Regions from separate parts of the Homo sapiens genome. Here region 1 is linked to region 2. Evidence: fine-mapped expression QTL. A gene starts in region 2. The other region holds a variant in brackets. All regions are shown on one strand. Distances are from middle to middle. Region 1 overlaps SP110 (SP110 nuclear body protein). Region 2 holds the start of SP110 (SP110 nuclear body protein).

Region 1 (4,000 bases), 48 kb before region 2:
TGGGAGCGAGCTGCCGATCTGGGAACAGAGCATGGTTTTTTTCAGCTTCTGTTCCAGAGATCCCTCCCCTGTCCTGCTTGCTGTTCTTTTTGCCACTCACTCCTTGCCTCCAGGAATGCCGAGGTGGTTTTTTTTCTGTAATCCTTGTCTTGTTTGAGCTCTCCCCAGGCTGAAACTGAGTGTAATACTTGCAAAATTCTGCTGTCCCAGAAATTAGGGGAAAGTAGAAAAGACGCAAAAAGGAAGCAGGAAATGCTCTTTACCTTGTAAAATGTTTTATGGTTGCGAAACATCAGGCGCATGTCTCGCACAAACCATGCCACCGTGTACATTTCCGTAATCAGCCTTTCCTTAACCAGGTCCAACCACATTGCTTCCTGAAAGGGCTCACCGTAATCTCGAATCTTGGGGACAAAGCCACCAGAGGTGACGTTAGCACAGCTGTCATCACTGGAATGGATCCAACTTAAATACAATCCAAGCCTTCATTTCCAGGGTCATAATGATAATACCATTTGACCTCTTTAAGCCAGCTATTGTTCTAGGCACTAGATAAACTAAATTCTAAGCCAAGTATATGAATATGTAATCTCCACATTTATGGGTACCATAAATAATAATGCCCATTTCATAGATGAGGAAACCGAGGGATGGAGAGGTCAAGGAACCTACCCAAGATGTCTCAGCAAGAAAGTGGTAGAGCTGAGATGGGAACCCACACAGTTTGGCATCTATGACTCTTTTTTTTCTTTTGAGATGGAGTCTTGCTTTGTCACCCAGGCTGGAGTGCAGTGGTGCGATCTTGGCTCACCGCAACCTCTGCTTCCTGGGTTCAAGCGATTCTCCTGCCTCAGCCTCCTGAGTAGCTGGGATTAGAGGTGCCTGCCACCATGCCTGGCTAATTTTGTATTTTTAGTAGAGATGGGGTTTTGCCATGTTGGCCAAGCTGGTCTCAAACTCCTGACTTCAAGTGATCTGCCCGCCTTGGCCTCCCAAAGTGCTGGGATTACAGGCGTGAGCCGCTGAGCCCAGCTGGCATCTGTGACTCTTAATCTCTAGTAGGAAAGACATTCTTCCTAAAGAGAAGATGAAACAGATACACAGGAGGAGAAGCAACTTGCCCGGTATCCCAGAGCCCGTGAGCAGTGGGGTGGAGTTTGAACCAGGTAGTCCCTCTCCAGAGTGTGCAGCAAAATCCCTGCTGCCCCGCTCCACTGCTGCCACGCTGCCCTTCTCTTCTGTTCTCCAGCTTCCTGAGCAAACTGCAGCACCTGCCAGATCAGCCCCCAAATTTCTCCAAATGCATTTTATGCAAGAGAACCGTAAAATGTGACTTACATTAAATGGGATGCCCGTAAAAAAGGAGCTTTGTGGATGACAGTAGGCCTTCAAGAGGAGGAACTCACATTTCTGTAAAATGTGAAGAGGGCTTGAAAGTGAAATGCAGCTTAGAAACAGTGAAGCCAGGCGAGTGTCTAGACATGCACACGGATGGGGCAGCCAAGCCCAGTCAGCATTCCAGCCATGCTTCCCAAGGCGCACAGGGTGTGTGGGATTTTGTTTAGACTCTGAGTTTGGGCATTAAATCGTCATCCTTTAAAGGGAGACATTGAAGGCTCCCTTTGGTACATTGCCCTGACCCTGTGCCTGTTTGTGCTTCTCGTGTGAGAAGGGAAAAGTATAGGTTTGGGGTTTGCATCCAACTCACCAGCTGGTCCTGAGGCTGCATCTGCCTCTCCAGGGTCTTAGATACATGATGGCACTGTTGGCTTCCTGAAGACCTCTTCATCCTGCAGAAGGTGCAACTCCACAGCATCCTGAGAGGTTGGACACAAGGTGAGCAGAGGGCAAAGCCCCTGGAAATGGCCACCATTCCTGTGGCTGCCACTGTCTTCCCTCAGGAAGGATGGGCTCAGCCATGAGGGTGGGACACCTCCCAGAGTGTCCAAGATCCCCACATGGGGTCTCCAGCATTGGCCCTTCCCTCGCATCAGTGGTAGCGGCAGGCGGGCAGCCTGAGGAAGGTGGTGTCACTGTTAAGTGTGGGCTCTCTTTTCCCTGTCTGAGCTGCTGGGAGCACAAAGGAACCCTGCCTGCCAGGCTTGAGTGTCAGAATCTGGGCTTTCACCTGCAGGGACCTCAGGCCTCCATCAGCCAGGTGAGACTATGGTGAAATGTGTGACAAGCCGTGCTTCCTGTCTTTCCTCAACAGGCACAGAACATAAGCTGGCTTTTCCCGTCCCCTCCTCCTTTTGGACAGGAGTCCCTGCTGTCCAGGGAATAGCATACTAGGAAAGGGCACTTCCAGGGGCAGAAGCAGTGTGGGGCCAAGAGGCTCACTGGCAGTCTCAGAGACCCAGAGAGGCCCAGAGTCTCTGGCACCAGACTGCTCTGCGTCACACCCTCGTC[C/T]CCGACGCTCACAGGTCCTGCCCTTTCCATCTGGAGGTGAGTGCTGTGTGCCCGAGGCGGGGCTGCATCCCACTCACCTCTTGGCTTCCACAGGGGGGATGTGACAGTCCTCATGGAAGACTCGTGGACAAGTACCGCAGCAGAGAAGTTGTCCCCCTTGACAGCACACCTCGCATTCATCCGAGTTTTTCCGCTGCAAGGGCAGATAACGTGGGCACCGCTAGGACCATGGAGACCCACGAATGCTGACCCTGTGGGGTTCTAGAACACATCATTTTTGTGTGTGCCAGAGTGGATATCCAAACCCAATTTTTGATGGGGGGAGCTGATGCCACCTCCCTGGGGGAAATTGCAAGACAAATGGCACAACAAGCAGAGAGTCTGGGTGGTGACCGCCGCCACCAGGACTTTTCTTCTCTGGCTGTGGCTTGCCAACAGGTTCTGCTGCGTTTTGAGCTGTGCTGCTGCCTGCTGGCAAGCTTGTGCTTTGAGCTGGGCCACTCTGGGCGCATTTGCTGAGCCCACCAGGCCTCTATTAATAGATCTGACTGACCAAAGTAAGAAATGATGATAACTGGCATTTGGGTGCAGGAGTATGGGAACTGTTGTTCCTGGTGCCTTGCCTAACTGCCCCATGGTCGTAACATAACATGGCCCTAAAATGTTCCACAGTGGGCATGGATGCTATGACCCAGTAAATAACACATTAAAATAATTAAAATTAAGTTACCTTTGGCACTTACAATTGGCTTTACAAAATGGAACTCTATGGACCTTCTCTGTTAAAATATTTAATACTGATCAATATGAATTAAAACACGGCTTTCAAGGATTGAAACTCATTATGGAAGATCTATTTAGAGAAAGGGTGATTATCCCCACTGTTTCTCCATTTAACAGCCCAATTTGGTCTGTTCTTAGGCTTGGAAAGAATGAATGGTGCCTCTCGGTGAATTACTACAACCTGAATCCTGTGACCCCACCTGTGATGGCCCAATGTTATTGAAATTACTGACTCCATCCACTTAGCAAGTGGTAAATACTCTGCAGGCATAGATTTGACTAATGTGTTCTGTTCAGCGCCTATTTCAACAGATCTCAGCTGCAGGTTGCTTTCACCCCCGAAGGGACACAATAGACCGTTATCTGGCTACCACGGGGTACCTCGACAGTTCTGCCACCATACACAATCTTTGCAGGCAGGATTTGAACTGCATCTGACATTCTCTAGGAGTACAGGTGTAACATCACCCTGAAGACACCCTTCTTTCAGCAAATTCATTTGACACACTCAGGACATTACTCACAAAGAACTCATAGAAAAGGATGGGGTTTGTGTTTCCACATGGTGGGATTAAACTAAAACAAAAAAGTATGGGCCACTGCCCCAGGCATAGTACAGGGATCCACACCAATTTCTGGCCATTGTCTGGTCAGTTGAGGGATGCTCCATCCCTGACACTGTCAAAAAATAATTATTGACCCTCTGAGTACTCACAGTGTTCTAATAAACCTCCCAGCATCCTTCAGGCCTCTTGAGTTCAAGGAAACACATCCTTCATTTGTAGATTTTAGGTAAGCCCATTTACGC
Region 2 (4,460 bases):
ACCATTTCATGTCTCAGACATGCGCCTTTTCCCATGCCCATGCAGCATGTATTAAAGATTGGCCATTTATGGACTGTGAGGAGATATCAATAGGTTATAATGGGAAGAAAGTTTACAAATGACATTCTTGACAAATTGTCAAGAAAAGGAAAAGCACTAACAAAACATTCAATCAACTTGACAGTTTTTAACAAACAGAACAAACATGGATTCCACTTTTCCAACTTCATTTTGTGTTGAACAGAAAAGTAAATCGTAATTAACAACTGTTTACAGGGATTTAATCCCAGTGGCAGATTAAGCACCCTAGTCTCTTTCTCCTCATTCCCCAATTTTTTTAACTTGGCAGAAAAAAATACTCATGAAAAGAATAATCCGCAATCGCATAGGAAAACAAGAAAAGATGCCATTGAGAGTCTGTGGTGGTAAAGAAGTCTTGGAAGATAGAGAACAGATAGGAGAGAAATCTACTATCCACAATATGCACAGGGGAAGGAGATAGTGCAAAGATCAGTGCAAAGTCAGAGAAAGGCAGAGTAAACATATACTAAGAAGAGGAAGGGGTCTTGGAGGCTCCTTTTAGAACAATTCATTATACAGCAGCGCTCAGAACAGGAAGTCTAGAGCTTCCTCATTCTTCATCTGTCATGAGTCCCAAAGATGAAAGGGAGGCACAGAGAGGTTTAGTAACTCACCCAAGGTATTCAGTGGCAAAGCAGAGCTTGTCTGACTCTAAAGCCCTGTTTCTTTCTATGCAAGATACTACATCTCATATATGACTGTTCAGATTTTTATTATGTAAAGAGATTTTGCAAACGAATAAGCAAAAGACAAACATCCAACTAGAAAATAAAAAAGCAAAATACATGAACAGAGAGTGATAAAAGAATAAGCCAAATGTGCAATGAATAATACGATAAGCATGTTAACTAGCTAGTAGAAAGCATAAAGAAGGCCAGGCATGGTGGCTCATGCCTGTAATCCCAGCACTTTGGGAGGTTGAGGTGGGCGGATCAGCTGAGGTCAGGAGTTCGAGACCAGCCTGGCCAACATGGTGAAACCCTGTCTCTACTAAAAATACAAAAATTAGCTGGGCGTGGTGGTGCACATCTGTAGTCCCAGTTACTCAGGAGGCTGAGGCAGGAGAATCGCTTGAACCTGGGAGGTGGAGGTTGCAGTGATCTGAGATGGTGCCATTGCACTCCAGCCTGGGTGACAGAGCGAGACTCCGTCTCAGAAAACAACAACAACAAACAACCAAAAAAAGTGTAAATGAAGACAATTTGATAACATATTTGTCTATCAAATTGGCCAAGATAGAAAATAATAGTAATAATCTCAGACACTGTGAGTGGGAAGGTCAACAGGTCCAAATGTTCTGAAGGCTGATTTAGTAATCAGTGTCAAATGTCCTAAAACATGTGCTCCTTTGAATTTCCACTTCTAATAATTTATTTCAAGGAAATAATCATGTATTTAGAGAAAATATATAAAAAGTTCATGATACACTAGAGACGAAATTAAATGTACTCTCATTTTTTTCTTTTCCACCAGCTTCCCAAGTACCTCTAGTCATTTACACAATGGATAACAGATGAGCCGCCTATTGCGGGCACTGAAGGATCAGAGCTTAGGTGAGGGTAGAGGGCAAATCTCGGCTCCATTCACAATAACAGGCTGGACTCTGGCGAAAAAAAGAGGTGTCAGTGTTCCCTCCATGTGCCCCCTTTTAACAGTCTCCTAATAAGTACCACATGTCTGAGCTCTGAGAGAGCCTCAGAGTTTAAATAGTTGAACTCCACCCTGCAGCTGCTGCCGCGAAGTTAACTCTAAGAGCTGCAGTCACCAAGAGCGAAGAATAAAGCAGCAAAGACAGAAACTCACCTGGACTTTGAGTTTGTCGTTCCTGCCCCTTTCCAGGGGCTGGGACAGGGATCACTCCTCAAGATTGGGAGAGTTACAGGGAGATGCTAGCAGGCAAAACAGGAAGTCTGTGCTTTGACAAACGCAGTAAGGGGCCGGGCTTCCGAGAAAAGAAAAGTGAAAGTTTTCGGAGTTTGCCAAGCCGGAAGCTGAAGGCAGGTCGGTGCCTGCAGCCTCTCTCCACCTCCTCATGGGCACTTGTGAGGCTCCCAGGACGTCTTGGCAGTTGGGGTTTGGGGGAGGGCGTGTTGCCAGTTGGGATCAGCCCAGAGAGGGAGGTATGGGAGGAGGAGGCATAAGGGTACAGCCCCAGCGGCAATAGGAACTGGGAACTCAGCGTCCAAATGCTTCCCTAACCACATCTATTTTCCCATGACTTGTCCTCATTCTGTACATTTTAGGTTGATGAAAATGTTCTCAAACTGGATTGTGGTGATGTTTACATAACTGAATGAATTCACTGGAATTTATCCAGTGTGTTATCAAACTCTAACAACACACAAAAAAACAAAGAGAATGTGCCAGAAATGCCTAGAACTTGTCAGGATAAGATTATTACAGGAAGAAATTGAAATGAAAGGGAACCTGCACATGAACTGGAATTGTGCAGAGGCAGGCAGACCTCCAGGCAGAAAAATGGCTGAGAGCTGGGCAGGTAGTTGGGAGCCAGGAGTCTGAGGCAGAACTGGGACCTGCTGATTCCAGAGAGCAGTAACTCAAGGGCTGGCAGGGACACCCCTTCTCATGCCCCTTTTAAAGATCCCTAATGTACATTGACATGTGGGGCCTATGAAAAATCCTAAACTATTGGCCAGGCACAGTGGCTCATGCCTATAATCCCAGGACTTTAGGAGGCCAAGATGGGAGGATTGCTTGAGCCTAGGAGTTTGAGACCAGTCTGGGCAACATAGTGAGACCCCATCTCTACAAAAAATAAAAAAATAAAAAATTAACTGAGTGTGGTGGCATGCACCTTGTAGTCCTAGTTAGTGAGGAGGCTGAGGCTGGAGACTTGCTTGAGCCCAGGAGTTCAAGGCTGCGGTGAGCTATGATTGCACCACTGCACTATAGAAATCTGTGTAACTTTGGGCCAGGCTCGGTGGCTCACGCCTGTAATCCCAGCACTTTGGGAGGCTGAGATGGGTGGATCACAAGGTCAGGAGTTTGAGACCATCCTGGCCAACATGGTGAAACCCCATCTCTACTAAAAATACAAAAATTAGCCAGATGTGGTGGCGGGAACCTGTAATCCCAGCTACTTGGGAGGCTGAGGCAGGAGAATTGCTTGAACCCAGGAGGTGGAGGTTGCAGTGAGCCGAGATCGCACCACTGCACTCCAGCCTGGGTGACAGAGCAAGACTCCATCTCGAAAAAAAAAAAAAAAAAGAATTCTATGTAACTTTGATTAAATCAATAATTCTCAAATGTATTTGACCCACAAGTTCCCCTACCAGGACATCCACAAACTCCTCAGATAAAAGATGGGAGACATGGATCTAAAGTTTAAGAAGCTTTGAAACCAAGGCTAACTGCATAAGAGCAAGCCCTTCTATGCAGGCACAAACAGCATATCCCACCCTAGTATGTACAGAATAGCAGACCCGGCCTTGCGGGTAATGGCTGTGGGTGAAACAGAGGCATGGAAGCCACAGCCAGGAAAAATTCAATGCTAACAGCTGAGGAGAGGGTGCATTGATGCCTCAGCATGCAGTAACATACAGCGCTGTGATGCAGGGGATGGCGGTGGTAAAGGAATTAAGGTTATTTTATGCAAATGTCACATGTCACTTACCTGAAGCCCCTCCCCATCACCTGGAAAGCCCCTTCATGGGCATCTGAGGATCCTGGCAGCAAGAACTTCTTCCTTTAGATCTATTCAGAGATACACCAGGCAAATGCAAAACAAACAAACAAAAGTAAAGCAGGAGTGGGAAAATAAAGTCAATGTCAAATCAGGCAAAAATTGTTACATGAAAAAAAGACAGCTGCGAATGAGGATGAAAGATGTTTATTCTAAGCCATATATGCTTGGCTGGGCACAGTGGCTCAGGCCTGTAGCTTAGCTAGCACTTTGGGAGGCTGAGGCAGGCAGATCACTTGAGGCCAGGAATTCAAGACCAGCCTTGCCAACATGGCAAAATCCCGTCTCTACTAAAAACACAAAAAAATTAGCTGGGCGTGGTGGCACATGCCTGTAATCCGAGCTACTCGGGAGGCTGAGGCATGAGAATCGCTTGAACTCAGGAGCTGGAGGTTGCAGTGAGCTGAGACTGCGCCACAGCAGTTCAGCCTGAGCAACAGAGTGAGATCCCGCCTCAAAAAAAAAAAAAAAAAAATGCATGCTTGAGAACATGGTAATAATGGGAAAACGTCACCTGTTAATTCACATGCTAGTGATTATGTACTGAGATAAATTATACATAATTCTTTTTAGCTCCATTTTATTGAGGTATAAAATTTATTCATTGTAATGTACATTTTACCAAATGTAGTTACTACACCAGTCAAGATGTAGACCATTTCTAGGCCTGGAGAGT

What was found.
Region 1: its variant is fine-mapped to the expression of SP110 in whole blood (TOPMed, PIP above 0.99).

Annotation. Positions count from the first base shown.
Region 1 is chr2:230,170,358-230,174,357 of GRCh38, forward strand. SP110 (SP110 nuclear body protein) reads right to left here. Exons shown (of 19, transcript NM_080424.4): 15 at 2,487-2,602; 16 at 1,709-1,817; 17 at 1,339-1,410; 18 at 264-404. Among named protein-coding and RNA genes, the nearest start is that of SP110, 48 kb to the right of the region's middle. The variant C/T (reference allele first, on the strand shown) is at 2,410.
Region 2 is chr2:230,217,990-230,222,449 of GRCh38, forward strand. SP110 (SP110 nuclear body protein) reads right to left here and starts at 1,995. Exons shown (of 19, transcript NM_080424.4): 1 at 1,885-1,995. It also overlaps a transcript of SP140 not described here. RefSeq lists an enhancer at 1,724-2,203 and a silencer at 1,921-2,107.